Homo sapiens: one gene and its partner. The protein of the gene in region 2 purifies or fractionates together with the protein of the main gene of each other region. This does not show direct contact. Each region holds a gene or a part of one and is shown on either strand. Other genes may lie near its edges. The genes, in order: FKBP9 and COL4A1.

Evidence for each region.
Region 1: the proteins of COL4A1 (region 2) and FKBP9 purify together in Homo sapiens (co-immunoprecipitation; one large-scale study listed by IntAct). This does not show direct contact.

What each region holds. Positions count from the first base shown.
Region 1 is NC_000007.14:32,974,352-32,978,175, forward strand, and holds part of FKBP9 (peptidyl-prolyl cis-trans isomerase FKBP9 isoform 1 precursor), read left to right. Parts: intron 1-265; coding exon 266-411; intron 412-830; coding exon 831-1,020; intron 1,021-2,002; coding exon 2,003-2,148; intron 2,149-3,824. UniProt on the Homo sapiens protein: PPIases accelerate the folding of proteins during protein synthesis.
Region 2 is NC_000013.11:110,150,158-110,153,981, forward strand, and holds part of COL4A1 (collagen alpha-1(IV) chain isoform 1 preproprotein), read right to left. Parts: intron 2,350-3,824; coding exon 2,177-2,349; intron 288-2,176; coding exon 206-287; 3' UTR 1-205. UniProt on the Homo sapiens protein: Type IV collagen is the major structural component of glomerular basement membranes (GBM), forming a 'chicken-wire' meshwork together with laminins, proteoglycans and entactin/nidogen.

The DNA of each region.
Region 1 (3,824 bases), on a different chromosome or scaffold from region 2:
GTTTAACACATTTTTTTTTTTTTTGGAGAGAGTTATGCTGATTCTTATTGAACTAGATTTGCTGGCAATATTCAAGGTAGTCTAAAATTTCCAACCCTACAAGTACTGTCCAGTGGAGATGTTCCTGTATCAGTAACTCCTAGGCAGGGTTTTTGCTTTGCTATGGCCCCATTACATCTGTGGGCACATTTTTACAGGTTGGTTTTTACTGAGGAAGGGACTATTTATACTTTTCTTTCTCTTTCCCTACCCTTTGGGCCTTCAGCTATGACAGAGACTCCACTTTCAATGTGTTTGTGGGAAAAGGACAGCTGATCACAGGGATGGACCAGGCTCTTGTTGGGATGTGCGTAAACGAGAGACGTTTCGTGAAGATTCCCCCAAAGCTTGCCTACGGAAATGAAGGAGTTTGTAAGCTTTTCTTCCTCGTTTATAAACACGTCAGCAGAAACAATGAGAACACTTTTAGGATGTTAAGTCAAACAGACTGGAGAATCTTGGAAGCTTTAGATTGGGGGAAAATGAAAAGCAGTGAACTCATACACAGCTAAAATTTCCATCTTAGGTTTATTTCTTCTAGATGTGAAAGAAAGTGTCATTAACACAGATGTACTGAATGATACCCTCAATGAGAAGAAGACTGTTTTTTCTCTTTTCTTTCAATTTCATTTGGAGGAAAGAGGGAGGAAGAATGGGTCATTTTGGGATTGTATAGCGGTGACTGCTTGAACCCTTTTGGCCCACATTCACCTTGGGAGCATCCTAGGTGTTTATTTATCTGGCCTGAAAGGCAGCAACTGTGAACTCAGTGTGTAATCTTTAATTTCTAGCTGGTGTGATCCCCCCCAATTCAGTGCTTCATTTTGATGTACTTCTGATGGATATTTGGAATTCTGAAGACCAGGTTCAGATTCACACCTATTTCAAGCCCCCGAGTTGCCCTCGGACCATCCAGGTGTCTGATTTTGTGAGGTACCACTACAACGGGACGTTCCTGGACGGAACTCTGTTTGATTCGAGGTAAGTCCTGTCGTTCATGGCAGTATCAGTGAAATGTCCCATGCATAGTTCTTTCCTTCTGTCTTACTTGCTTTTTATGCTGATGGGGATACCAGAATAAGGACTCTTCTCAACTGTAATCAGTACTGAACTCATCTACTTAAGACTTTTGGTCAGTGTTGCATCTTCTCTGGTGCCAGAGTCAAAATTTTAATACATCTTAGAAACATTGAAGAGCAGTGTTTATCTAACTTAACAGTATTTTGAGATCTCATCATTAAGTGAAAGGTTCTATTTCTTTCTTTTTTTTTTTTGAGATGGATTCTCGCCCTGTCACCCAGGCTGGAGTACAGTGGCACGATCTTGGCTCACTGCAACCTCTGCCTCCTGGGTTCAAGCGGTTCTCCTGTCTCAGCCTCCCAAGTAGCTGGGACTACAGGCGCATGCCACCACACCAAGCTAATTTTTTGTATTTTTAATAGAGACGGGGTTTCAGCATATTAGCCAGGGTGTTCTCGATCTCCTGACCTCATGATCTGCCTGCCTTGGCCTCCCAAAGTGCTGGGATTACAGGCGTGAGCCACTGCACCCGGCCGTGTAAGTCTCTATTTCTAAGGAGGCTTATGCACGTTTTGGTTCCTTTTTATAGTTTTCCCATGGAAGCAAGAGGGAAAAGATGAATGTATGTGAAGCTATGGAGAGGCATGGGGCTACACGGGAGATCAGGGAACCCTTCGCAATTTCTTCTCATTAGAGCGTGTTTGATTAGTGGAATAGCTGGCCTGTTTTTGTCTATCACTAGTATAAATGCATGCTTTTTATTTCTTTCTAAACTTGAGGACATCTGCCCTGTGTTTGGGGGAAAAGATCCATAAATGTCTATCTCTAGGATGGGTATGGGATCATCGTTTAGCTGATATTTGGGTAAGAAAAACCGTACGGAGAGATGAGTTGGAAATATCCTCATGGTGTGGAACTTTTTCCCTTTCTCATTACCTTTCAGTCACAATCGCATGAAAACATATGACACGTATGTGGGAATTGGCTGGCTGATTCCTGGAATGGATAAAGGGCTGCTGGGGATGTGTGTGGGTGAGAAGCGCATCATCACCATTCCTCCTTTTCTGGCCTATGGAGAGGATGGAGATGGTAAGTCCGTCTCCTTCTTGGAGCCACTCTTTCCTACCCTTATTTTTATTGCAGTGGTTAATTCAGTTGTCACCACATGAAACCCACTAGACCTTTCGGTCTAGACCTACACTGGCCAATATGGTAACCACTAGCTACATGTGGCTATTAATTAGCTAAAATTTAAAATTCAGTTCCTTGGTCACACTGCTACATTTTAGGTACCCAATAGCCTCACGTTGCTGAGGACCACCATAGTGGACAGTGCAGATACAGACCCAGATCATTTCCATCACTCAGAAAGTTCTATTTGACAGTGCTAGTCTGGATTGTCTGCTGTCTGATGATTGAGTTGCAGAAATTTCCACTTACTTATAGTCATTGGCATTCATAAGTAACCCCCTCTGCCCCTGTTGTACCTGCCATGGCCTTGGCCACCAACCTCTCTGGCTTTAACATTTGTGAAATGAGACTTGAATTAGACACTATAAAAGTTGCAGATATCCAGGTAGAAATTTAGCCATACAATGTCAGAATTGCCAGATTTCCCCGTTTGCACCTCTATGATGAGTTTTACCTATGGCATTAACTCCATATGGACAAAAGCAAAGTGTAATGTTAGAAAACACATTAATTACAACTAGTGTCCTGTTTGTAGTTTTACTGTGAAGGAAAACACATAATATTGACTGATAAATGGAATGTCTCAGGTACTCATGTTTGAATTTCAGGTGCGTTTAGTCATATTGACATGCTGGCACAACATAGAGACCGGTAGACATTTAAACAGCAGATGGATACAATGATGTGTTGATTCATAATGGGGATATGTTCTGAGAAAGGCATCATTAGGCAATTGCATTGTTGTGCAAATGCCATAGAGTGCACTTACACAATCCTAGGTGCTACATCCTGCTGCACACTTAGGCTGTGTGGTGTAACCTGTTTCCTCTAGGCTGCAAACCTGCACAGCATCTGTACTGAATCCTGTGAGCTACTGTAACACAATGGTAAGAATTTGTGTATCTAAACATAGAAAAGGTACAGTAAAGACATGATATGATAATCTCATGGGACCACTCTCATATATGTGGTCTGTTGTTGACCAAAACTTCATTGTGCAGCACATGATTTTGTAGTTAAGGATATAAATGAGAACATGATGCTTCTTAAGAAGTTTACTGATAGTGATAGCCAGCTTACAATAGCCAATATGTTTTCAACGTTTTTTCCTGGCTCTGTGGAGCGGAGCAGGAGCAGAAGGGAGCCTGAGGTGATGGGGCTCAGCCTTCTCTCCTTTCTATCTCCATATATATATATATACTTATATATATATATGTATATATACACGCCCATATATATATATACACTCATATATATATATACATGCCCATATATATATATGTATATATACACTCATATATATATACTCATATATATATACACTTTTTTTTTTTTTTTGAGACAGAGTCTCACTCTGTTGCCCAGGCTGGAGTGCAGTGGTGCGATCTCGGCTCACTGCAACCTCTATCTCCTGGATTCAAGAGATTCTCCTGCCTCAGCCTCCTGGGTAGCTTGGACTACAGGCGTATGCAACCATGCCTGGCAGATTTTTGTATTTTTAGTAGAGACAGCATTTCGCCATGTTGGCCAGACTTGTCTCAAACTGCTGAGGTCAAGCCATCCATCCACCTCGG
Region 2 (3,824 bases):
TTGAAAGCTTATCGCTGTCTTTTTCTCCTTCAGCAAGTAGAGGTCAATGAAGCAGGGTGTGTTAGTTACGCAAATTCCTATAAGGCACTTTACGGTTTTCATATTGGACAGTGAGGTACACAGGATATATTTCTAGGGTTCGTTGCTGTTAACAAAAAGAAGAAGAAGTAGCACCATGTTGTGACATTAGCTGAGTCAGGCTTCATTATGTTCTTCTCATACAGACTTGGCAGCGGCTGACGTGCGTGCGCAGCTCCCCTGCCTTCAAGGTGGACGGCGTAGGCTTCCTAAAACACGACACAGAGACAGACCATTGGCCATCATCTCACAGCACGTCAGAAACATGGCACTCCTGCCCTGCTCGGAAATCTCTAAGGGATCAGCCCAGCCCCTGGCATCAGGCCTCAACCTGGTACCACCCAGTGAGCAGGCAGGTGCTGGGTGCAGTGCACACACGGTCCCACGCACACAGAACACTGCAGGTTACCAGCTGCACACCCAGGCCCTGGCACCTGCCCCAGTGCCCACAGCCCCATAGGGCACAGCTGAAGTCCCGCCACATCAGTCTGGCTCCGAAGCCTTGGCCATTCCCCTCTGTGCCACCCTGCCTCCTCGTACTACAATTTCACTTTTTTTCCATTCTCCTCCACTAGATCATAAACTCCTCCAGGGTAAGAAGAAGATATTATTCTTCTCTGCAACACTTTACACACACAGTAAGTATTCATTAAATATTTGTGGAATGATGTGATGAGTAATAAATCTGGAGTAATTCCCTAGACCTCGAAATACTTTTATAACTTTTGAAGGATTTCTATGCAGATGGTCTGCTTTGAGACCAAAAAGAGGGAAAGACATTCAATGTCCCAAGTGTTTCTCAAGCTTAGAAACTCTACATTATTTTGATTGTTGAAAAGGTAAAATCTGAACTAAAATTGTTACTGAGAAAATTCTATTAAAATAAATAAATTAATTAAACTAAATTAAAATAGCCATTTATGAGAGTGCCTCATCCTAAAATTGAGGCTGCTTATTTTATTAACTTTTGGTGCAAATTCTAGTACCCTCAAGTTTATTATTTAAATTAATGGGATCTTACCTAATTTGCTTTGGGAAAACATTTTAGTTTATTGTATCAGGCTGCTGGTTAAAAAAAAAAAACCCATCATTACCTATCAACCTTATAAGAGGACACCGCAAGGGCTGAGGCATGAACAAAGTGCGCTCATTTTGGTAGTGAATGGTTAAACTCTATCTGCAGCATGGATGTCAAGTTTCCAGTTCCTTGAAAGGCTCCAATAAACCACCAGTTAGGCACGCGGCACTTTTTGGATGAGTAACGAATTAGAGAAGCGTGTATGTTGTTCTGCCTCTTACTATCTAAGCTGGAAAGAGACAGGATCATAGCAGGGTTCCATATAATTCTCTCCAAAAAGGTGAAGATGGAAAGGCTCATCTCCAGGGGTGAGAAGCGCTTGTTTTGGAAATGAACAGTAAGCAGCTGTGCCAGCTCCGTCAGCCTCCTGCATTGGCTCCAGCGGGGCTGCAGCTGGGGCTCGGGATAGAGGGTTCATTATGCGTTCCTGGCCTTCGGGGACCGGCCCGGCTCCCAGTCAACTCCAGCAAGGTTAGTAGCCACTTGGGCCAGTCATTTTAAAGGTGAGATTTTGGTAATGGAAAAGGAAGGAAGGGTCTTCCCTCTCAGTTTCAGCTGAATTTGTGCTGAAATTAATTTTTATTTGCACAGGTCTAAAAAAATACCTTGTGAAGTCACTCAGAACTTACACAAAGTGTACATTACGATCAGTGTTATGAATGGCATGAAAATGAACGCTGCTCACTTCTTCTCCCCGGGATTGTTAAATATACTGTATTTCAAACATGCTCTGTTTGGAGATTTCAGTTGCTTTAATTACATTTTAGTACACTCACCTAGAAAAAATGGAAAATGACCTTTTTCTTTCATGGTTCTTCGGTAAATGAAAAAATTAAACCTGTGACTGAAGGTCTGCCTTTGAAAATCGTCTCGGTCATCTGCCCATGTCGAACAGCATCAAATATTCATTGCTAACCATCTTTGAGACTTTGCATTGGAAGGTGTTACGGATCGCGGATGATTAAAAAATAAAGTCACAAAGGGGCCAGCAGCCTGCAAAAAAGCAGTGCTCCCACTTACTTGAACATCTCGCTCCTCTCTATGGTGGCGAGCCAAAAGCTGTAAGCGTTTGCGTAGTAATTGCAGGTCCCACGGCCGTGACACTCGATGAATGGCGCACTTCTAAACTCCTCCAGGCAGGAGCCGGGGGACGCCAGGGCTTGGCCAGAGCCTTCTGCACCAGCGCTGGTGTGCTGCAGAACAGATGCGAGCCGTGAGTCAGAGGTTCCCTCCCCAAACACCAGGAAAGAGATCGATCCTTCCCAGGAAGGCGCCAGGGTGTTCCCTCTGGAAAGCCACACACTGCAGCCTCATGTGGTCACCACAGGACACACTCTGTGCCCAAATTATCGGGCTGGCCCGCAAGCCAGTGCCTGCATGGCTGGGGCCCCATGGTGCTCAGCATGGCCCCAGGGATCGTCTAATGGCTGCTTCCCAAATAGGTGACCAGCCCAGCTTCATTAGAGTTTAAAGAAGAGCTCACTGTGTATTAGATTTGAAACACTCCAACCCATTCTAACATGGGTCATGAGACAATAGCCAAAATGTTCAAATAATGTTGTAAACAACTGATGTGGAATCAGACTTTACAAATGCATTCCTGTATTTGCTATATTAGATGCTATTTATCTTATAATAAGGTAAAGAATAATCATTCAATTTTTTTTCTTTAAAAAGAGAGAAAAACAAGAGAAAGAGAAAAAAATAGCTACTACTATATCAAATTGCATTTTGGTCTAGCAGGTTTAAGTAGGACCTTCCTGTACTCAGAAATCAAGACCTTAAAATGAATGACATACAAACTTGACTAAGACATTACAACAGAGCCCCGTGACTATTATTTCAGATATAGGAAATGTGAACTCTAGAATTTTGGAGACACAAGGGACCTTTGAGGACAAGGCTAACTCCACTGATTCCCAGCTGAGGACATTCTCGGATCTGACCAGGATCACATAGCTTCAAGGCGGAGCAGAGGCAAGGACGGGGTCTCCAGACCTCCAGATCAGAGCCACCGTCCTGAGAACTCAGAGGAGGTGCTGGAAGACACTGTTCTCTAGAACGTCACTATTTTCGTTTGCTCCTGATTTAGACAAATTATGGGCAATCACTGTTTCAGGCCTTTTGACACCCGGACAAGGGTTGGTGGTGACAACAGCTTTCCTGTGGGTCCTCAATGCAACTGTGGGCTTTCTCTGACACACAGAGATTCCACTCAGTATTTCTTATGATTATGGAGTGGCGAATCCAATCTACCTTTTAATGAACATGGCAAGCTTACATCATTGTTAGTGTCCTGATTTCTCTATACAGCATTTTCAACCTTTCTGGCTCTCTCGATAAAGTAGTTACAATGCAGCACTTCGAATTATTGCAACAACCTGTTAATCTGGTGGTTGCAACATGAAGAGTGTAGCTGCAGTACAATCAACCCAGCAAATCATACAATCAAACTTGTACACGTGCACGAACATTTTAAAAATTGCTTTCCTGCCAACTTTTTCTACACTTGGAAAAATGTGTAGAAAAGCACAAGAAAAAACCAGTAGAAGGAAATGGCAATGGTGGGCGCCTCGCACACAGCACGTCTGGAAGGTGGAACAGAGACCCTCCACACGGCTGGGGCGCAGGGCAGACGCCACACCATCCGTGAGTTACCTTGTTATCT